3 linked regions of the Homo sapiens genome follow. The protein of the gene in region 1 interacts with the protein of each later gene in a pairwise test. Each region holds a gene or a part of one and is shown on either strand. Other genes may lie near its edges.

Evidence for each region.
Region 2: the proteins of DEFB121 (region 1) and CD40 interact in binary tests that used the Homo sapiens proteins (3 or more experiments, as listed by UniProt).
Region 3: the proteins of DEFB121 (region 1) and CLEC2D interact in binary tests that used the Homo sapiens proteins (3 or more experiments, as listed by UniProt).

Annotation. Positions count from the first base shown.
Region 1 is NC_000020.11:31,403,898-31,411,068, forward strand, and holds DEFB121 (beta-defensin 121 isoform 1 precursor), read right to left. Parts: upstream 2,319-7,171; 5' UTR 2,256-2,318; coding exon 2,198-2,255; intron 1,189-2,197; coding exon 1,016-1,188; 3' UTR 948-1,015; downstream 1-947. UniProt on the Homo sapiens protein: Has antibacterial activity.
Region 2 is NC_000020.11:46,114,081-46,121,809, forward strand, and holds the start of CD40 (tumor necrosis factor receptor superfamily member 5 isoform 1 precursor), read left to right. Parts: upstream 1-4,233; 5' UTR 4,234-4,263; coding exon 4,264-4,314; intron 4,315-7,729.
Region 3 is NC_000012.12:9,664,623-9,672,858, reverse strand, and holds the start of CLEC2D (C-type lectin domain family 2 member D), read right to left. Parts: upstream 3,147-8,236; 5' UTR 3,125-3,146; coding exon 3,064-3,124; intron 1-3,063. UniProt on the Homo sapiens protein: Receptor for KLRB1 that protects target cells against natural killer cell-mediated lysis. Inhibits osteoclast formation. Inhibits bone resorption. Modulates the release of interferon-gamma. Binds high molecular weight sulfated glycosaminoglycans.

The sequences.
Region 1 (7,171 bases):
AGTATGAAAGGGCTGAATAGGAGGCAGGTGACTCCAAATAGAACTTTTCAACTCAGGATAAAGAATCAAGTTCTTTTACATTAGTCAGATAAGTAGCAAGAGTTGGGGATACTTGGGATCATGGGGCTGAATGTGGTAAAATTCCTGTCGTCTCAGTTCAGGATCTGTCCTGCAAAATGATTAGCCAGCAGTTTAATGTCCCATGGCCACAACTAGAGGGAATGGAAAGAGATGGAGCAAGGATCCACAGATGGCCTGATGCCAGCACTGTCCACCATGAGGAAGACTCACAAGAGGCATTGCCCTAGAGCCCCTGAGGGGCAGAACTGCAGGTGTGATCAAGGGAAAGTTATAACCTTTGGTGTGGGAGTAGAAAGAGGCCATGGGCCAAGAATGGGTTCTTGTGTTCATCATACTTGCCTCCTGGACTCCCCTAAAATACTCATAGATTGAGACCCACAGCATGCCTCAGCCTAGACTCTAAAGCCATTGCTATACAATACAATCACCACTAGCCACATTTAGCTATATAAATTTAAAGCTCGATTGAATCAAATTAAAACTTCGGGTCCGCATTCACACTGGGCACATTTCAAGTGCTCAGTAGCCACATGTGGCTAGTAGCTACCATATTGAACAACATAGACAGGAAATATTTCCATCATGGCAGAATGTTCTATTGGCAGTGCTGGTCTAGAAGAAAACAGGAATCAAGTAGATATAATGAATATTCTTTAATTCATGCCCTCTTGGACCAGCTATGGGTCAGCAGGCTAGGAGCTATTTGCAAGGTTTAGATTGTTACCACCTACTGGTCCATCCTGTTCTTCCTAACATGCACACCGGACACACACACACACACACACACACACACGCACACAACCTTTCTTCTTTATTTACTTGTTTCTAAATGTAACTAGGTGGAACTATCAGACAGAAACAGGGTGTTGCCAAGAATGATTTAATAGAACTGCAGGATCCCATGATGTTGAGACTCAAGGTTGGAAGAGAGGTGTCAGACTGCAGAAGTTGATTCCAGGCTTGTATTTGTGTCTGTTAATTTTGGTTTTACAGGTACATACTTGGGATCCACACAGCACTTAGCCTCAGTTTTGCATAATATATAGTATACTTCACTTTCTTTACATGTTGTTCTGCACCTGCCTGACTTGCCCCAACATTTCATGACTGAAAACAAAAGGGAAGAAGAGAATAGAGTCAGTTTTGAAAGAAAGCAGAAAGGTGTGAAAGGAAGAGGCTAAAGCCCAGTAGAGGAGTAGGAGGGAAATGAGGAGGTCTGTGGGGAAGAAGCTCTTACACAGGATCCCCTAAGTTTAAGGGAGATTATAGACCACTACGCTTTCTTCCTTCACTTGTGCCCCCTGTTAGAACCCCCAGAGTCCCCCCAACTCAGTGGCATAGGACCTACTGGATAGCTTCCCCTCCTTGGCCAGCTCCTTGGGAGGGGGAAGAGGACCCCTCTCCCAAGGGTTTTATCTCCCCCATATTATAATGTACCCAGGTGCCCAGTAGCAATTAGCCACCTTTTCTCATTGTTCTTTGGTACCCCCTCTGACCATATCAATGAAAGGTGACAGGAATATTAAATAAACTCATTTAACATCTGTAAGTCTTCTAGGGCACCTTTAAAACTCCCAAGAATATCATACTGCCTTCTTCACAACATCCTGGGACTTTTCTCTGGCCCCAACCAGTCAAGGGAATTAGGAACAGCTATTCCAGGGAACCTACAACCTAAGGTAACCCAGATGATTTGAGGTTGCATTAAAAAGTGGAATCAGAATCCTCAAACAATCAGAAATTTGAGAACCATTTTCCTAGAGGCAACAATGCATCAAAATTCAAATCCTTTCAATGAATGTTTTTGAAAAAGTCCCCATTTTCTCTATACTCCATACCCAAGTCTCTCTCTTTACACCCTATCCCATCCTCAGGTCATCACGTTCAGCTTTTCCAGAGCTAACCAGAGATAAGGTTGGAATGGTCAAGTACTGGGCACTGGGAAGACCATTTGGTACCAGAGAACTCAAACTTCCCCATAACTAGAGAGACTACCTAAAGGCCTCAATGAGCTCTACCAGGCCATTCTCCCAGCCCAACCTGTCAGAGTCCCCAGAGTTCTCTGAACATGCATCAGGTTTCCTGACTCCCATCCCCTTCTGGAGATCCTGTTTACCTGGGGTGACCTGGGCCAGGAGCAGAGTAACAGTCAAAAGCAGAAGAAGGAGCTTCATGAATGATGAATGATCAGGGAGGGATAGGAGGCTTCTCAACTGGTAAAACAGACAGAGGACTCCATTCTGGGCAGTCCAGACTGGTATTTATTGCCTTGAGGAGCATGGCAGAGCCAAGATCAGTGAACCAGAACGGGAACAGTCATTTGAGATCAGACAGGCAGGCAAGGAAGGTATCAACCACACTGCCTGAGGAGGCTGGGAGAGGGGGAAGGGACGTTAACAAAGAGAAGATACGGCCTTGCCTCTGAAGAATTTTATAATACAGCTGGAGAACCAAGAAGGGGAAAAATATTTTCATCTCTAATTTGTTTTTCATTAATGAGAAAAAAAGAGAGAGAAAAAGAGATAAGACAGAAAAGGAGTGATACTTCTCTGCGCCTTGGGTTCTTCCCAGCAACAAGGACATCTTAGGATGTCCCATATGTTGATGATTCATTATAATACCAAATGAAGGGCAGAGCAGGGGAAAATACCTTAATAGCTCCATGGCCATCACCACTGGAAACCAGAATGTCAGTATTCATGGAGTGGAATGAGCAGGAAAGCCATAGCCCTTACTTTTAACAGTACATATTTAATAGGAACAAGTAGCACCCTCATAGGTAGCAAAAGAAAAGCCATTTATTATTGTTGTGGTCTTTTTTTTATTATTACTTATTTTTTTGAGACAGTCTTGTTCTGTCACCCAGGCTGGAGTGCAGTGGCACAATCATAGCTCACTGGAACCTCGAATTCCTGGTCTCAAGCAATTCTCCTGCTTTGGCCTCCCAAAGTGCTAGGATTAAAGGCATGAGCCATCATGCCCAGCTTGGTCTTTCTTATAAGAAATGGTAGATTGCCCCAGCAACTTGGGAGGCCGAGGCAGGCGGATCACAAGTTCAGGAGATCGAGACCATCCTGGCTAACTCAGTGAAACCCCGTCTCTACAAAAAAAAATACAAAAAATTAGCCGGGCGTGGTGGCTGGCCACTGTAGTCCCAGCTATTCAGGAGGCTGAAGCAGGAGACTAGCTTGAATCCGGGAGGCGGAGGTTGCAGTGAGCCGAGATTGTGCCACTGCACTCCAGCCTGGGCAACAGAGCGAGACTCTGTCTCAAAAAAGAAAGAAAGAAATGGTAGATTGTAATCTTGGCCCTACTTCTTCATCCCTACTTGAATTCACACATTTGCCAAGGTCTCATCCTAGGAGAACTCTATTTCATTTTCCCTTCACTTTGGCCTTGGCATGTGATTTGCTTTGGCTAGTGATATGTGGGCAGAAGTGACGGTGTGCCGGTTGTAAGCCTAGGTTTTAAGAGATGATGAATATTTTCATTTGCCCTTCTGTGTCTCTGCCATCACTATGAGAAGAACATGCCCCAGTGGTCCAAGGAGGATGAGAGATACGTGGGGCACAGCTACTCCAGGCGACTCACAGATCTACAGTGAGAAACAGAGCTGCCCCAGGCATTCCAGCCTCAAGCAGGGCAATCTAGCCAAATATAAAGGATTGATGTTTTAAGCCACTGAGTTTTGGAGTGGAACATTACATAGTAATGGCTAACTTATACACAAGGCCAGCAGATAGATCAGGAAAGAGCCAAGTGCTTTTTAGGACAATAATGGTAAGGTCTATCTTTCTTTTCTTTTTCTTTTTTCTTTAAGACAGAGTCTTGCTCTGTTGCCCAGGCTGGAGTGCCGTGGCACCATCTCAGCTCATTGCAACCTCTGCCCCCCGGGTTCAAGCAGTTCTCCTGCCTTAGCCCCCCGAGTAGCTAGGACTACAGGCACGCGCCACCACACCCAGCTAATTTTTGTATTTTTGGTAGAGACGAGGTTTCACCATGTTGGCCATGGCTTGTCTCAAACTCCTGACCTCAGGTGATCCACCCGCCTCAGCCTCCCAAAGTGCTGGGATTACAGGCGTGAGCCACTGCACCTGGCCTAGGTCTATCATTTCAAAATGGACAGAAATAAAGACATACTAATAAGAGGAATATCTTCTTTCTAACATGGAAGAAAACAACAAGCCAGGAGCAGAGGCTCCTGCCTGTAATCCCCACAATTCGGGAGGCTAAGGCAGGAGGATTGCTTGAAGCCAAGAGTTTGAAACCAGCCTCAGCAACATAACGAGACTCCATCTCTACACACACACAAAAAAAGTTTTAAATAGCCGGGCATGGTGGGGCAAAGCTGTAGTCCTACCTACTAGGGAGGCTGAGGCAGGAAAATCATTTGAGCCCAGGAGGTCGAAGCTACAATGAGCTAAAATTGCACCACTGCACTCCAGCCAGCTCAACAGAGACCCTGTCTCCAAAAACAAAAAAAAGACAAGATAAATTTTCTTGTTGTCTGAAGAAAAATTAATGCTCCGGAGGTCACTTTTTCTATAAAGCCCAGATGGTAAATACTTTAGGATTTGCCAGCCACAACTATCACAACTACTCAACTCTACAGCTATAGGACAAAATTACCCACAGACAATATATAAGCAAATGAGTGTGGCTGTATTCCAATAAAACTTATTTATAGACACTCAAGTTTAAATTTTGTATAATTTTCACATCTCTAAATGAAATTTGATTGTTTTCAACGATTTAAAAATGTACTGGCTGGGCATGGTGGCTCACGCCTGTAATTCCAGCACTTTGGGAGACTGAGACAGGTGAATCACCTGAAGCCAGGAATTCGAGACCAGCCTGGCCAACATGGTGAAACCTCGTCTCTACTAAAAATACAAAAATTAGCCATGTGGGGTGGTGAGCAACTGTAACCCCAGCTACTCGGGAGGTTGAGGCAGGAGAATTGTTTGAACCTGGGAGGCAGAGGTTGCAGTGAGCCGAGATGGTGCCATTGCACTCCAGCCTGAACAACAGGAGTGAAACTACATCTCAAAAAAAAAAAATGTACCAAGGCAAACAGATCACTTGAGGCCAGGAGTTTGAGACCAGCCTGGATGACATAGCAAGGTCCCTTCTCTATTTTAAAAAAACTTGTTAAAAAAATAAAATAAACAAAATTATTGCTGATTTTCTTGGTATCTCCACTTTGGAAAAACAGTTTAACAGTTTCTTATAAAGTTAAACATAAACTTATCATACAACCAAACAACTCCTCTCTTTGGTATTTATCAAAGATAAATGAAGACATATGTCCACGTCAAAACTTGAATTGTCATAGTAACTTTATTCACCATAAGTGAAAACAACCCAAAAGTCCATTAATTAGTAAACAGATAAATTCTGATATCTCCATGTAATAGAATACTATTCAGCAACAAAGAATTAACCACTGCTATGCAACATACGGATGAACCTAAAGAGCAAGCTGGGTGTGGTGGTTCACGCCTGTAATCCCAGCACTTTGAGAGGCCAAGGTGGGTGGATCATCTGAGGTCAGGAGTTCGAGACTAGCCTGGCCAACATGGTGAAACCCTGTCTCTACCAAAAATAACAAAATTAGCCAGACATGGTGGCGGGTGCCTGTAATCCCAGCTACTTGGTAGGCTGAGGCAGGAGAATTGCTTGAACCCGGGAGGCGGAGGTTGCAGTGAACCTGAGCCAAGATCATGCCACTGCACTCCAGCCTGGACAACAAGAGCGAAACACTGTCTCAAAAGAATAATAATAAAAATAATAATAAACATTTTTTAAAAGCATTAGCCTGAGTGGAAAAATCCAGACCAAAGAAGAACATACTGAACAAGCTTATTCACATGAAACTCTAGAAAACACAAACCTAATCTACAGTGACAAAAAACAGATCAGTGGTTGCCTGGGGCTGATGGGAGGAAGTGGGCATTGACTGAGATGGGGCATGAGGGAACTTTCAGAGTGATGAAAATGTTCTATATGCAGATGTCAAAATTCATCAAAATTTACACATTATGTTTTATATAAATTATACCTCAAAAAAGTTGACTTTAAAAAAAACCTGTGCAAATAGTTTTTAAAATAAGCAACAGAATCCGATAAATAACATAAAACCACTTAAAATATATACACATTTAATGTGGTACACATATACCATGGAATACTATGCAGCCATCAAAAAGAAGGAAATCACATCCTTTGCAGCAACATGGATGCAGCTGGAGGTCATTATCCTAAGCCAACTGATGCAGAAACAGAAAACCAAATACCACATGTCCTCACTTACAAGTTGGAGACAAACCTTGGGTACATGTGAACATAAAGAGGGGAACCATAGACACTGGGGACTACTAGAGTCAGGAGAGAGGGAGGGAGGCAAGGGCTGAAAAACTACCTATTATATACTATGCTCACTACCTGGGTGACAAGATACATCATAGGAGTTAAACATCATAGGAGTTGCCTATGTGAGAGATGGATAGGAGTTGATTATGGGGATAAAAGTTAATAAATCAGTAAAATAAAATAAGAGAAGGGCTTTGTATAAGGCCAATGACAATAAATCTGCCATAAATACATAACCCTCTGCAACAGAGGACTAAAATAAAGTGCTATATTGACAAGGGGCTTACTTCTAAAGATCATTAGTAAGGTATCAGCCCCGTGGACTGGAACCCATTTCCTCTCCTTCCAGAAGGGACTGCAGAGAGGAAACCTGAGATGCCATTCAAGCAAACGGCACAACTTCCTCCACTCTTGAGAAAGGGGATTGTTTCTGGTTAGAAGGGTAGGATACTGGGCTGAGAGCCTTGAAAAATGAGAGAGAGAGAGAGAGAGAGAGAGAGAGAGAAAGAGAGCAACTCATGGGAGCACCATCCTTGCAGAAGTCTTAGTCTAGAAGGTACTTTCTTTATGCATCCAAGGAACCCCCAGTGGCACAGAGTTTCATCTACACTGAATGGTTTTGAGATCTACTTCCCTTCTTTAAAGAACTCCATCATAGCCCTGCAAGTTTGCTCTTGTGAACACTGATAAGCAGAATAAGGCTGCCTAATAAAGGGAT
Region 2 (7,729 bases), about 15 Mb from region 1:
GAGAGAAGATAAAATGAGATTTAAATTGAGTTTGAGAATAAAGGTCTAAAGGATGGAGGTTTAACAACAGAAAGTGATCCAAAAGTAATGCAATCTGCCCAAAATGTCATTAAGGGATGGAAAAGGGAGATTCAACACAGCATGGCTGAAGGCAGAGATTAGGGGAGAAAATCTTCATCATTATACCCCACAGAGTTGAATCGCCTCAATACACTGGCTCCACAAGTAAACAGAAAAATTGAAATACAGTGTGGTCGGGCTAGAGTCTTGCTTGGGTAAAGCTGCCCCAGGTTCTGAGAGAGCACAGGGGGATAGGTTGGTTGTTAGAGAGAGATTTCCAGAGGAGGGTTGCCTGAGATGGACCTTGAAGGGTGAGAAAGAGTTGGCCAGGTGAAAGGAGAGTGGCAGTGGGAAGGGAGCTCTCCAGGCAGAGGTGACAGCACGGGACATCTGGGGAGTGGGGCTGGAGCATGAAGGGGAAGGCAGGAAGGATGCTTAGAGATGTACACCAGGAGGCCCATGGCCTTGCAGCTCTGCAAGCTTAAGGGGTGAGGGCCCTGGAGAGCCACTTTAAACCTTGGAGCAACACAATTGGATTTGCATATTAGACAGAACACTCTGGATGCCAGATTCTGGCAGCGCTGTGGACACTGGACCTCTAGGCATGCTCCTCACCCATTCACCTGGCACTGTGAACCCACCTCCCTACAAAGGCCATTTCATCTCTGAGTTTCCAAAATCCTGGCTCCCTACTCTTTTGAATGTCCTTTGCCCCATTCCTATTGCAGAACCCTTCATTGTTCCCTTTTTGATTGGCCTCCGAATATTGCCACTTTCCCTTAAATCATCTTCTCGCTTTCCTCCTCCAGCACACTCTTCTCAGCTCAACAAGATTCTAGGCCTTCTCTGGGCCTGTGCCCACCAGCACATGCCTCCTCAGGATATGTATATACTAAAATATCTTCCCTTTATCTTATCTGGTCTTCGCCCCATGGGGCAACCCGAAGGCTAACATTTATTCCTTCACACATTAATTTAAGCTGCTTTAATTGCTGCTATGATATGTTTTATATAATATAATTAATGTTTTAATTCTGTGTACTTGCTTCCCCAGGCAGTTTTGTGAAAGGCCCAATTTTGGAATCAAGCAAATAAAGAATAAGTAATGGCTGAAATCATTATAGTAACACCCCTCTCTCAAAGGATTTAAAACCGTGCTTGTTTTTTTCAAAGTATGTTAAAAAGGGAAAAGATATTTTAATCTTCTCTCCATCCTGGGCATGTTTGGGTGGCTTTAATGAAGTTCCCTGGACCCTGATTTCAAGAGTTTCTGGCCTTTTGGTATCTGACCACCATTCTCAAGAGGCCACTGCAGCTTGAGGTCTGTGTTGAGATTACCAGCTTCGCACCCCCTGCCACCAACTCTTTGTCATGATTGGAGGCTGTACTTAGGATGAGAAGTTGCTGAACCCACTCATTCATTTATTCATTCATTCAGCACCCATATATTGGTGTCCTATTATGTACCTAGGACTGGGATAGATCCAGTCCTGCCCTCAGGGAGCTCACAGTCAAATGGGACCAGGCAGAAGGAGTTATGAGCTGGCATGCTAAATGCTGTGGCAACACAGGGGAGGAGGCAGGGTGGGATAGAGTACCTACCTCTGCCTCAGGGAGTTGGGGAAGGTGTAAGAGGAGGCAACATTTAAACTGTTTAAGAAAGGAGAAGGAAAGGAAGGAAACATCAAGAGCAATGAGATAAACCGTAAGGAAAAAAGATTGTGTGCCTGGGAAGTGGGGAGAGGCTGAAGCCAGTGTGCATGGGAGGACGTGGCAGGAAGTAAGCATAGAAAGAGAGGTTGGGGCTGAGTGAGGAAGGGTGTGCTTTGCCAGGATAAGAAATTTGGATCATCCTGAGGGTGCAGGGAAACCCAAAGAGGCTTTTATGCAGGAAAGTGTCCCAGTCGATCAGATCTGGAGTTTATCAAGAGAATCGCAGCAGTGTAAAGAGTTGCCTGGCACATAGTAGGTGCTCAATAAATCCTGTGGAATGAGAGAGGCTGTTGGGACAGTCCAGATGAAAGATGGCACCCTCTGAATTAGGGCAGTGGCAGAGGTGACAGAAAATAAGGGATGGATCCTAGAGGCAGAATCCACAAGACTTGCAAATGTGCCCTTAACAGCAGAAGCCATGAGAATGGGGTTAGAAGTGTCCTCCTCTTCCATCCTCCCTGATCTGTGAGGTCTGGCCTCTTGTCCTCTTCCAGAAATTGAGAGCTTGGAGGGTCATCACCTCAACCGTTGTCTAGTTCAAGCTCCTAAGTTTTCCTTGGAGAAAAATTTAGGCCTAAGGGAACACAGTCCTTCAGAGGCAGAGGCTGCACCAGAACCCAGGTGTTCCATGCTGCAAAGCAGAGTGTTAACACTGGTTCAAGAACATCTTGAGGGCCAGGTGCGGTGGCTCATGCCTGTAATCTCAGCACTTTGGGAGGCCAAGGCAGGCGGATCACCTGAGGTCAGGAGTTTGAGACCAGCCTGGCCAACGTGGAGAAACCCCGTCTCTACTAAAAATACAAAAATTAGCTGGGCGTGGTGGCGCCAGCCTGTAATCCCAGCTACTCGGGAGGCTGAGGCAGGAGAATTGCTTGAACCCAGGAGGCAGAGGTTGCAGTGAGCCGAGATCATGCCACTGCACTCCAGCCTGGGCAACAGAATGAGACTCTGTCAAAAAAAACCCAAAAACCAAAAACCAAACAAACACCCAAAAAACAAAACGAAACAAAAAACAAAAAAACAAAAGCACGTCTTCAGAGTTCATGAACCCAGGAAATGTAGGCACAAGTGTGTGTGTTTCTGCAAAATGAGAGGGTCCCGAGTTTCCTAACATACTTAAAGTGTTTTATGATGCCACAAAAGGCTGGCCCACTCTTTTTTTTTTTTTGAGATGGAGTTTTGCACTGTCGCCCAGGCTGAAGTGCAGTGATGTAATCATTGCAATCATGGCTCACTGCAACCTTGACTTCTTGAGCTCAAGCGATCCTCCTGCCTCAGCCTCCTGAGTAGCTGGGACTACAGGTGTTTGCCACCATGCCTGGCTAACTTAAAAATTTCTTTATTTTGTAGAGATGGGGGTCTTGCCATGTTGCCAGGCTGGTCTTGAACTCCTGGCCTCAAGCAATCTCCCTTTTTGGCCTTCCAAAGTGTTAGATTACAGGCGTAAGCCACCGCGCCTGGCCCCCACCTTTATTTTTATTTTTATTTATTATTTATTTTTTTTTTTTTTGAGACTGAGTCTTGCTCTGCCTTCGAGGCTGGAGTGCAGTGGCACGATCTCGGCTCATTGCAATCTCTGCCTCTGCGGTTCAAGCGATTCTCCTGCCTCAGCCTCCCGAGTAGCTGGGATTACAGGCGAACGCCACTACATCCGGTTAATTTTTGTATTTTTAGTAGAGACGGAGTTTCACTATGTTGGCCAGGTTGGTCTCGAACTCCTGACCTCAAGTGATCTGCCCGCCTCGGCCTCCTAAAGTGCTGGATTACAGGCGTGAGCCACCGCGCCCGGCCCCACTCTTAATAAATGCCTGTCTCCAGGTGCTGGGTGGGAGGTGGGATGGAATGGAATGAGGTGAGGACGCATGGATGCATGGATGAATGGATGGGAAGTTGAGACGACGCGCCCACACGAGGGAATTTCCTTTGAAAGAGAGCGAAATTCTGAGTTGGGAAACTCTTCCTTGAAACGCCTCCCCATACCCCAGCTGTGGCCTTCCCGTTTTCTGCGTGGTGGTGTGGGGGGAACTTCCTCAGGCCTCTCCGCAGTGGAGCCTCTTTCGGTTCTGCCAGGATACCTAGAGGCAGCGGAGAGCGGGGCAGGGAGGGGAAAACCGTGAGGGTCCCTGTGGCAGGCCCCAGCACCCATGGGATCTCTCTCCGGTCGCAGGAAGCAGGCTAGCTCCTAGCCCGCCTCGGCTTGGCCTTTGTGGGACCTGGGGGCAAAGAAGAAGAGCTGTCTCTGGGACCATGCCTCCTCCCGTACACAGCAAGATGCGTCCCTAAACTCCCGGGGGAATTAGACTTGTGGGAATGTTCTGGGGAAACTCCTGCGCGGTGAATTGCTGGGGGCTCCGCCCCCCCGATAGGTGGACCGCGATTGGTCTTTGAAGACCCCGCCCCTTTCCTGGGCGGGGCCAAGGCTGGGGCAGGGGAGTCAGCAGAGGCCTCGCTCGGGCGCCCAGTGGTCCTGCCGCCTGGTCTCACCTCGCTATGGTTCGTCTGCCTCTGCAGTGCGTCCTCTGGGGCTGCTTGCTGACCGCTGTGAGTTGTTTTTGCCCCGACCAGACGGGAGTTGGGAGTGGGGAATGAGAAGGAAAGGGAAGGAAGACTTCGGGGAAGAGGCCTTCCTGGCTGATTTTTGTGGGGGCAGGAGGGTGGGTGGGAGCTGGGCAAGGTGCCCCCGCTCCTGGCTGAATGGGGTGGGCTGCCTCTCTCTTCTCCCGGGCTGGGGTCCCGGGAGCGGCCTACAGGGGCCGCTCAGGGAAGGCACTGGCTGCCCAAGCGTGCCTAGACGGCCTGGACGGGTTTAGGGAGCCTCAGAGGCTGGCCACACAGAGACTGGTAGGGGGTTCAGAGGGCGGGAAGTGAGGCGGACCAAGGGAAGGGGCGGGTCTGGCCCGTTTCCTGTCCCCTTCTTATTGTGGACAGATGCCAGCCTCTGTAAGTAGTTATCATCTCCTTGCCAGCTGGGGCTGCCTTCTTCCAGGGCATCTTGTGGGAACAAGAGATGGGTGCAGAGGCCCAGGTACTTTTGTGAGAAGGCAAGGAGCTTTTAACATCGCCTTCCACCCCGAACCGTATCTTGGGTGTTCCAACCTAGGAGGAATCCCCAGGGCTTTGCCTTTTTCTCCTGAATTTAAGATGACATAGGAGACCCCTGGGGAGATGAACAGTTTATGGGACACAATAAAGGGTTAGGAGACCAGAGTTCTGGTTGGCTCTGACAGGGCTGGTGATCAGAGGGCTGGAGAAACCAGGGGTTTCTCCAGGCACCAGAGGGGCTCAGAGCCAACCAAGCATATCTCCGGGATTTTCAGAAGCCTACACTTGACTCACTTTTTGTTTAAATGTATTTTTGTAGTTCCTCATTCTGGAGGCTGGGAATCCCCCAAGTACCTGGCTCCTTCATCCCAGCCCCTCTGGCCTCCCCCTACTTTAGAGGGCTGTAGATTCCTGCCTGAAGCCTGGGCAGGAATGACCCATGGTATCAAGGAAAGCAAGGGAAGCAGCAAGGGAAGAGAGGGAGTGGGGAGGCTGCTTTGGTCCCACAGCTTTCACTTTCACCTGAAGCAATGGCTCTTAGGGAACAGGGAGGCAGGGGGAGGGCGGAGCTGGAAAGAGGTAAAGGGGGGCCCTTGTGGTAGGAGTGGAGAAAGAGCCAGAGGAGGTGGGGTGAAGGGTGTGATCCAGGCTTCTCAAGAGCAGAGTTTGCCCTCATAACTCCCAACTTTGGCTCCAGGTAGAGGCTGGGCTGTGACAACAATGTCAGAAGCTATCTATTGAGGGCTTCTTGTGTGTCAGGCTCTGAGCCAAACACTGCCTGTTTTCTTTGTCTGATTTCTCACAACTCCCCCATTATACAGATGGGCAAATTGAGGCTCAGAAAGGGGGATTGTCTTGCCAAAGGTCTCATAGCTAGCTAATGGAAGAACCTGGTTGTGAATCTACATCTGCATGATTCCCGAGCCTGCCTCTCAGATAGTGAGAGTCTCCAAGCTCTGGTCCTGAGCTGTTTTGTGGCAGAAGGACCAGAACTATGGGGAGTGAGAACTGGAGATTGACAGACTTTTAGGGGAGCGTTTTATTTCTCATGTGTTTGAAGATGGTATCAAGGACTTTCCTATCTTTGGGAGTGTGGGAGCTCCACGTTCACAGGATGGTGTCTTGCAATGAGCTGGTGGGGGGCAGTAGCCTTTTCTACTTCCTTTCCCATTTTGGGTAAGACACATTTCTGTAAGTAATTTGCTGAGATACCCAGGTTGAATGAGAGCCACCAGTTAGGTAGGATTCTGGACAGCCAGCCAGGTAGCCGGGCTGCTTGCCATATATCATGCAAGCAGAAACAAATGAATGATGATTAAAATTGCCATTTAATGAGCACCTACTATGTTCCTGACACTGTGCTAGGCCATATACATGTATTCTTTCTTATCTTCGTAATCCAACCTGCAGGGCAGGCATTATTACTCCCATTTTAGAGATAGAGAAACTGAGGCTAAGAGAAGCAAAATAACTAGTAAGTGTTACAAAGTCAGGACTGGAGTCTAAAGCTGTCTGACTCTCAAACTTGTGTTCTTTTCACTGGCTGTTCCCAAACTGTGGGACAGTTTTAAGGAGCACATGGACATAGAATTAAACATACACTTACTTTACAGTTCTTTTAAAAATCCTTCTCATTTTTTCAAAGAGGAAGTCTCTGGAGCTAGAATAGAGTTAATGCCTCTCAAAGGCTTGCTAATCCTTCTTTTAAAACAAAAATCAAGAGCAGGCCTGGGAGGGCCTTCAACAAGCAAACAACCAGCTGGGTTTTAATAACCTTGTTTTGTTTCCCCAGAATTTATTTTTAGGGTTACCTTTTATTTATGAGAAGTGATACTGGTTCTTGTCTCTTGGCAATGATGTGAGGTTTACATTTAAAGTAAATGTACCGGCCAGGCACGGTGGCTTGTGCCTGTAATCCCAGCACTTTGGGAGGCCAAGGCAGTCAGATCACTTGAGGTCAGGAGTTTTAGATCAGCCTGGCCAACATGGTGAAACCCTGTCTCTACTAAAAATACATAAATTAGCCGGGCATAGTGGTACACACCTGTAATCCCAGCTACTCAGGAGGCTGAGGCTGGAGAATTGCTTGAACCCAGGAGATAGAGGTTGCAGTGGGCTGAGATGATGCCACTGCACTCCAGCCTGGGCGATGGAGCGAGACTCTGTCTCAAAAAATAAAATAAAAGTATTGAAATTAACAATAAGTAATTAATAGCATGGGTGGTACCTGGATGTAGTAAAATGGTGAAGATGAAACACAAGTTGATGGAGAGAGGAGCATTGAGACCTGAGTTCTCATTTGGACTCTGTCACTGTGAGACTCTGGGCAAGTGACCCTCCTCTTTGGTGCTCAGTCTCAACTATCTGTAAAATGAAAGTGTGAGTTTACCCTTCCAGCTTTACATTCTAGCATTTTATGAGGGAAGGGCTGGATGAACAGATGATGAGGAGTTGGAGGAAGAAAACATGATGGGCTTTGGAAAGGAGCAGGAAGGGAAGCAGAAGAATAGGAGGAAGAGGCCAAGTGCTAAACATAGCCCCAAACAGCACTGGGACCAGCTGAAGTCAGCCAGCTTCAGGACTCCAGGGGAGCTGCTGGAGTCCCCATATCCTATGGGATCTTTGGGAAGAGGAATGACTCAGGCATCAAGCCCCAAGGAATTCTGTTCTGTTCAGAGAATATTGTGAGTTTACAGTACCATTGCTTTGTAAAAATACCAGAATGATTCTCTGGGTGCGATTATAATCAGCTCAGTTGACAATTTACTTGAAAACAAACATGCCAAATATCATGCAGGTTCCACTTTCTGTTTTGACTTGCACTTCAGTTTGCAGCCTCTGTCCTGGATGACTTTTACCTTTCTGCTGAAGAAGTTGCAACGGAGATTTCAAGATCCCTTCAAATTGCACAATT
Region 3 (8,236 bases), on another chromosome or scaffold:
TAGCTGAATTGACCAAGCAGAAGAGAAAATATCAGAGCTTGAAGACTCTCTTGCTGAAATAAGGCAGACAGACAAGATTAGAGAAAAAAGAATGAAAAGAAATGAACAAAACTTCCAAGAACTATGGGACTATGTAAAAAGACCGAACCTACCACTGACTGGAGTACCTGAAAGAGACAGGGAGGATGGAACCAAGTTGGAAAACACACTTCAGGATATAATCCAGGAGAACTTCCCCAACCTAGCAAGACAGGCCAATATTCAAATTCAGGAAATCCAGAGAACCCCAATAAGATACTTCATGAGTAGATCAACCCCAAGACACATACTCCAAGGTCGAAATGGAAGAAAAAATATTAAGGGCAGCCAGGGAGAAAGGTCAGGTCACTGACAAAGGGAAGTCCATCAGATTATGAATTTTGAGTGCTACAATATGCCAATGTAGGTTATTAATTGTAATAAATGTACTGCTGGTGAAGAATGTTGATGTTAGAGACTGCTATGGTTTGAATGTGTCTCCAAAGTTCATGTGTTAGATACTTAATCCCCAATGCAATAGTGTTGAGAGGCAGGTCCTTTAAGAGGTAATCAGGTCATAATGTCCTTATAATGGGAGTGGGTTTACTATCACGAAAGTGGATTTGTTATAAAAGCAAGTTTGGTGCCTCTTGCTCTCTCTCTTTCTTATGCATGTGCTCTCTTGCCCTTCCAAATTTTGCCATGGGATGATGGAGCAAGATGTGTTTCTCAGTCTTGAACTTTCCAGCCTCCAGAACTATGAGCCAATAGATTTTGTTCATTATAAATTACCCAGTCTTGGGTATTCTGTAATAGCAGCACAAAACAGACTAAGACAGAGTCTATATATGTGTGGCAACAAGGAGAAAATGAAAAAAAAAACTACCTTTCTCACAATTTTGCTGTGATCCCAAAATGGCTCTAAAAATATGGTCTTTAAACAAAACAAAAAAGAGCAAAAGGAAAAAGGATATACTAGCAGCAGATCTTACAAGAATATCCAAATTTAAAGAGCCATCAAACCAGTGGTGAATTTAAATTTCCCTCCTCTAGTATCACTGCCCCGAACTTAATACAGCCAGAAACATGGAATTGAGCCTCTGTCAGCATAAAGAGAGGGCTCCAGGAGAAGCACTAGAGGTATGGTCTGAGGAACAGAAAAGCAAACTCCTATCTCAAATAGAGTGTGAAAATACCACGTTTATTTTTTCTCCCCCTCTTGTCTACATTCTCATGTGCCTCAAACCTCAGGCAATCTGATGATGGTAGGGGAAACTACAGCAACATGCAATAGCCAAAACCTTGAGAAAGGTTAATCCTCGGCCGGGCGCGGTGGCTCACGCCTGTAATCCCAGCAGTTTGGGAGGCCGAGGCGGGCGGATCACAAAGTCAGGAGATCGAGACCATCCTGGCTAACACGGTGAAACCCCGTCTCTACTAAAAATACAAAAAAGTAGCCGGGCGTGGTGGCGGGCGCCTGTAGTCCCAGCTACTCAGGAGGCTGAGGCAGAATGGCGTGAACCCAGGAGGCGGGGCTTGCAGTGAGCCGAGATCGCGCCACTGCACTCCAGCCTGGGGGACAGAGTGAGACTCCACCTCAAAAAAAGAAAAGAAATCTAAAGTCAATCCTTTCCATTCAGTTGAGCTGTAGCTCCATGAGAGTGGGGCCAAACCTCTTGCTTTTTTTTTCTTCTTTCTCACTGTCCGTCTGCCACATGAGCTTAAAGATGCAGCTATAATTGCAGAAGTATATGGTTCATCAGAATAAAAGGAGGCCCGCATTTCTAGCTGGAGGATGGAAAGGAGAAGCCCCTGGGAACCTGAAAGTACGGGTCAGATGGTGAAGAGGAAGAAACTTTAGAAAGAGACCCATGAACATTATTCATAAACTCCTGGATTCACCTGCCCCTCAACTTATGCATGCCTAGATATGGTTCTAATTGGCACACTAAAGATGCTAAGACCTGAACTAATGAGTAGAGCATTGCACAGTTCCCAATTTCACCCCTGGTTGATGCACATGTCTGAATAGCACTACAAAGGCTTTCAGAATGGAACTGACATTGGAACCAGATCCCACAGATTGTCTTCATCTCACCAGGGTGATTGCTTGCTAAAACAATAGTATCAATATACTCCAAAATTTAAATAAGATCCAGTCTAACTAAATATTTGTTCAAAATGTTCAAATTACAATCCAAAATTACACAGTATATGAAGAACCACGAAAATGTCAACTTCCATGGGGAAAGAAAACACAAGCCAAGGAGGACATGACAGAGATGTTGGAACTATCCGACAAACAGTTTAAAGCATTTGGTATAAAATGCTCAAAATACCCAATGAATGAAGAAATAAATGAAGTCATTTAACAACATTTAGAGTTCATCTTTTTCTGCCTCTGAATTACCTTTTCTCCAAATTGATTACCTTTTAAGTTGGGAGGAGAAAACTCCAAACTTTTAAGTCCTAAGTTATAAAACCTTGATATTCCCTAACTGTGGCAAAAGTCATTTTTTTCACTTACTAAAGCATCATATAAAGCTATATATATATATATTTCCAGTGCATCCAATGTAACATAATTCCATTAGAATGCCCTACTAAGTTTCTACTCAACCTTTGTTACTTTTTTGATTTGTAAATGTCCTTTACATACTATTTTCTACCTTTTCTCTCTTAAGAGCTTCCATGATAGGTTTTCTACCTATGTAATAATGATGGTATCTTGTATCTGAGTAACACTTTAGAGTTTGTATAGATTTTTTTTTAGTGAAATTAACTGTTATTTTCAATCCTAAACTTAACCTTATCTCATTGTCTTACATCTTTCTCTCATTGTTCCCTCTCCTTAGTTGTTAGAACTGGGAATATAAATATATGCATGTTTTACACAAATTATAAGCCAATTTATGGACTCCCACATTCCATCTCTTATCCTTGAAAACTTTTTACTAGATCAGCACCTTTCCTGTGTGAGCCCATCACTACCACTACCTTCCCATTCCAGTCCTCACACTTACTCTGTAGAGCCCAGCTTCTTACCTGGGTTTGCAGGCAATTCAGATGGTGTAATGTCTTTCTCCACATTGTTACTGTCATGCATTTTGCCTCCAGTTTCTATGAGTGATCTAAACCACAGTCTCTACGTTTTCAACCCCAAGAATGATTCAAAACAAAACAAAAAAAAAGCCCAACGACTAAAACGTGTAAGTGTGTAACCGCCCCAGTAACTCAAAATGTCAAGCCTTTAAGTTAAATATAGCTAGAGGAACAAATGAAGCATAAATTGTTTCAAAAATCAGCTCATCACAACAGAATAAACTGGTGTTTGTAAGAATTTTAAAAAGTTGAAGCTACTTCTCTAACAGTATTTTGGTTACGAAAGAAACTAATGTTTGATAACTTAAAATTTCTTTGACTATTAAAAATTATAATTGTATTTTGTGCGGTACAAAGCAATATTATGATAGAAAATAAGAATTTATTGAAAGGAAGGAGTTGGCTCTCAGAGGAAATGAATGTTAGGTAAGTAAAGACAACAGCAATTTTAATCTCAAATTAAAATTCATTCCCAAGAGTTTACGCTCATTCAAAAAATATCTTGTTTTCAATTTCTTCAAGATATTTTGGGAATTTGCTGCTATGGCTGCTACAACAACTTTTCAAAAATGGGCTTGAACGGTGTGCAGCTTCTGTGCTCCCTCTGGCATGATCCAGGAGCACAGAGGCTCTTTAGCAGCAAGAGCTTCTTGTCAGATGTGTTGATTTCTTGTATATAAATGCCAGTAAGGGCACCTTTTACTAAAATATAATTTATAGTAATGTGCACAAATCATAAGCATACAACTAAACACATTCATTAAAAATATAACATGTAACAAGTGCCTAGATGAAGTATATCTTAAAACCACGTAAAACAATACCAACACGCTATGTGCCCTACTCATGTCCTGCAACGCTCATTACCCCAAATACAATCTCTATCTTAACTCTGACAACATATTTTCCCTGCTTTTGAATTCTATACAGTAGCCCCCCTTACCTGTAAGAAATAAGTTCCAGATTGGACAGCTATTGCCTTTATCAAATAGAAATGAAGTTGCATTAGGACTGAGTTCCAGTTTCTGTAAGATTTTATATATCTTTTTCTTTACTATTTCATCATTTCTAGTTTGTCCTAGGACCTATGATAAAGCCTTCTAGTAATTCCATCTGAGAACCTGCTTTTTATCAAAGCTGCTTCTCTTTCTTGGAAGTTGAATTTGGTTTTGTCTCCTGAACAACATGTGATTGCCAAAAGTTCAAGTCTGTTTTTCACATAGTTCTTCCTAACCTCCTTTCCTGTGAAATTTAATAATTTGAAAATTGCTTGAGAGAAAAATTTTTCTCATTTCTTTGGCCCTCTCTCCTCTCTGGGGGTTTTGGTCCTTCAAGTGCTTTAGGAAGAGATTTTTCTCTCCCCCAAAAAAATGCCTGGTATCCACAGCCCTCTCCCCAGAATCTCAGCATCTGACCCACTGCCAAGATGCCCCTAAGAGAAGGGTGGCTCCTGGAATGCTGACTCACTTCTCTGTGGCCCCTTTCCAGAATCTTCGTTCTGCCTCCAGTTGCCTTGAACACTCTCTAATATCTTAATGAAATCCTTTTTCTTCAATTCTAACTCTTCTAGTTGTTCTCAGCATGAGTTTGATGTCTCTCCAGTTATATTATCATACACAGAAGTGGATATGAACTGTCAGGCTTATCCCTTTTATATCCTTTTATAATTTCATTGTTAGCTTAAAGGGGACAAAAGGTAAACCCTGATAAATTGAGATTTCCACACTTATCTTGGAATTTCCACACTAATCATCTTGGAATTTCCACACTAATCTTGGACCTTCCAGTGAAACTACTATTACTTTTACTGTTACTAGCCTGGCATGACAACATGCCAGGTTATTACTGCTTACTATGCTCCATACACATTAATATGAGATTTAAATATGTGTTCTTATTTAATTGGCATAACTAACTAATGAGGCTGATATTACCTTTATTTTTCAGATGATTTTGGGTGAGGGACTAACTAATATGTCTAAGTTCACAGTAAGCTATAGAACCCATGACTGACAGATCTGATATGAAAACTACTTTAAAGGTCAAATATCAAATGACATGGTATTTGTGAGTTAGTCACATCATTTATTCATATCAATCTCTTGGTTTCTACGTTGCTGTAAGTTTCTCCTTATGTGGAAACTAAACTGAAAGTAAGTTCATGAAGTCCTAAAGATGTACATAATCATTTACCCTTTAACAAATATTTTCAAACTTAACATCTTTCAGCCAGCACGCCAGGTGGACTTTGAGGGTAATGTCCCTTTCTTTAAGGAAGTTAATATGAAACTGAAAAATAAGTAGGTATACATGACTTATTGTAACAAGATGTGAATGGCAGTAGAATAATTTATTAGGAGAGCAGTTAATGAGGGCACTTAACCCAGAAGAAGTTTTCCCAAGAAAGTACCAATCAAATGAGCTGGAGTTAGTTAAATAAAGTGAGGCATTTAGGCCAGGCATGGTGGCTTATACCTGCAATCCCAGCACTTTGGGAGGCCAAGGCGGGTGGATCACCTGAGGTCAGGAGTTCAAGATCAGCCTGACCAACATGGTGAAATCCTATCTCTACTAAAAATACAAAAATTAGCTGGGCATGGTGGCTTGCACCTGTAGTCCTAGCTACTTGGGAGGCTGAGGCAGGAGAATTGCTTGAATCCTAGAGGCAGAGGTTGCAGTGAGCCAAGGTTGCACCACGTGGGCGACAGAATGAGACTCTGTCTCAAAATAAATAAATACATACATCCTGGCTAACACAGTGAAACCCTGTCTCTACTAAAAATACAAAAAATTAGCCGGGCACGGTGGCAGGCGCCTGTGGTCCCAGCTATTCGGGAGGCTGAGGCAGGAGAATGGCATGAACCCAGGAGGCAGAGCTTGCAGTGAGCCGAGATAGTGCCATTGCAGTCCAGCCTGGGCGAAACAGCGAGACTCCGTCTCAAAACAATAAATAAATAAATAAATTAATTAATTAAAAAAAATAAAGTGAGGCATTTGAGGTGGAGGAAGAAGTCTTCCAGTTGAAGAAAGTCTTCTAGTTTCTTTAGTTAGGCCCAGAGAGAAGAGAATATATCTCAGAGTTGGGAAAACACCTGAAATCTGAGAGAGCTGGAGCATAAATTATGAAAGGAGAAATGTGACAAAATAACTCTCCAATTATCACAAGAGCTTTATATTAAACTATGTGAATCTCATGACTTCTAAGCCATATCGTCGTGCTTACTTTCTTATGCAACCTTGTGTTAAATAGCTGATACCACACATAAGATACCACACATAAGATACAGTGATGTGCATTTACACTGTCCTTAGAGAATTCCAGTGTGAGGAAAAGAAGTACACATACAGAGTAATTTTAATTTCATTTAGAAAATAAATTTTTTTCAAAATATAATTTTTTAGTTGAGTCTATATTAGAAGGCAGAAATTAATGACTAATTGACCGGATATAAAAGGAAAGAAAAAAGCCCCTTCAAAGTGCCCATTACTCTTCAATAGATGTGAGTGTCTCAACTAAGTAGTATAAAAGCAATATATTATCAGATTTTGCTTCATTGGAATAGCTGACTGATAAAAAGTTACAAGAAAGAACAAAAGTTTATAAAAATTATTTATTCTCAATGACCTGTATCCCACTTTTCTTGGGTTTTTGTGTTTGTGACAGCATGATGGATGGTAATGATATTGAATAAGTGAGGGATATAAAAGGCAGTGTATTATGATGTAAAAGAACACAGCTGGCAGGGTGTGGTGGCTCACACCTATAATCCCAGCACTTTGGGAGGCCGAGGCAGGTGGATCACCTCAGGTCCGGAGTTGGAGACCAGCCTGGCCAACATGGCAAAACCTTGTCTCTACTAAAAATACAAAAACTAGCTGGGCGTGGTGGTGCGCACCTGTAATCCCAACTACTTGGGAGGCTGAGGCTGGAGAATCACTTGAACCCAGGAGGCGGAGGTTGCAGTGAGCCGAGATTGTGCCACTGCACTCCTGCCTGGGCAACAGTGAGAGTCCATCTCAAAAAATAAAAATAAAAAAAATAAAAAAAGAACACAGCCTTTGGGGCAAAACAAGCTCAATTCATATATGACTTTTGTAGCCTGATAGTTAATTTTAAATGTATGTGGAAAGCAGAATAATGACCCCCTAAAGACATTAATAAGCTAATTCCCAAAACCTTGAGGTAAGGATGTTATTTTACATGACAAAAGACATTTTGCACATATGGTTAAGGGTCTAAAGACAGAGGGATTATTTTGGATAATCCAGGTGGGCCTAATCTAATCACATGGGTCTTTATTAGGGGAAGGCAGGAATGTCACTGTCAGAGAGAGATTTGAAGGTGCTGTGCTGCTGGCTTTAAAGCTGTAGCAAGGGACCATAAGCTAAGGAATGCAGGTGGCCTCTGGAAGCTGAAAAAGGCAAGGAAACGGCTTCTTCCCTAGAGCCTCCAAAAGAAATGCAGCCCTATCAGTGGCACCCTGACTTTAGCCATTTTGAACCTCTCATTTCTAGACAGTAAAATAATAATTTGTGTTGTTTTTAATCCACTTGTCTTAGTTCATGTGCCTGTAACAAAATACCATAAAATGGGTAACTTATAAACAACAGAAATTTATTTCTCACAGTTCAGGAGGCTGGAAGTCCAAGATCAGAGTGCTGGCAGATTTGGTGCCTGGTAAGGGCCCACTTTCTGGTTCATTGATGGTAACTTCTAGATGTGTCCTCACATAGTAGAAGGAACAAGGCAGCTTTGGTGGGCCCCTTTTGTAAGGGCACTAATCCCATTCATCGGTATTCTACCCTCATGACTTAATGACCTCACAAAGGTTTCATCTCCTAATGCCATCACCTTGGGAGTCAGGATTTCAACATGTGAATTTGGGAGTGGGAGATACAAATATTGAGATCATAGCACCCCTAGTTTATGGTAATTTATTATTACACAATAATTATAGCATATTGATTAAACTGTCTCAGCCTCAAGATCTATATGAATAAAAGGAGTATAATAGCACCTTCCTTGACTGGTTTGTTCTGAGAAATGAAAACTTCATCAGTTAATATACCTATTAAGTTACTAGTAATTCATACCTGCTTTAGGAAATATTACGAA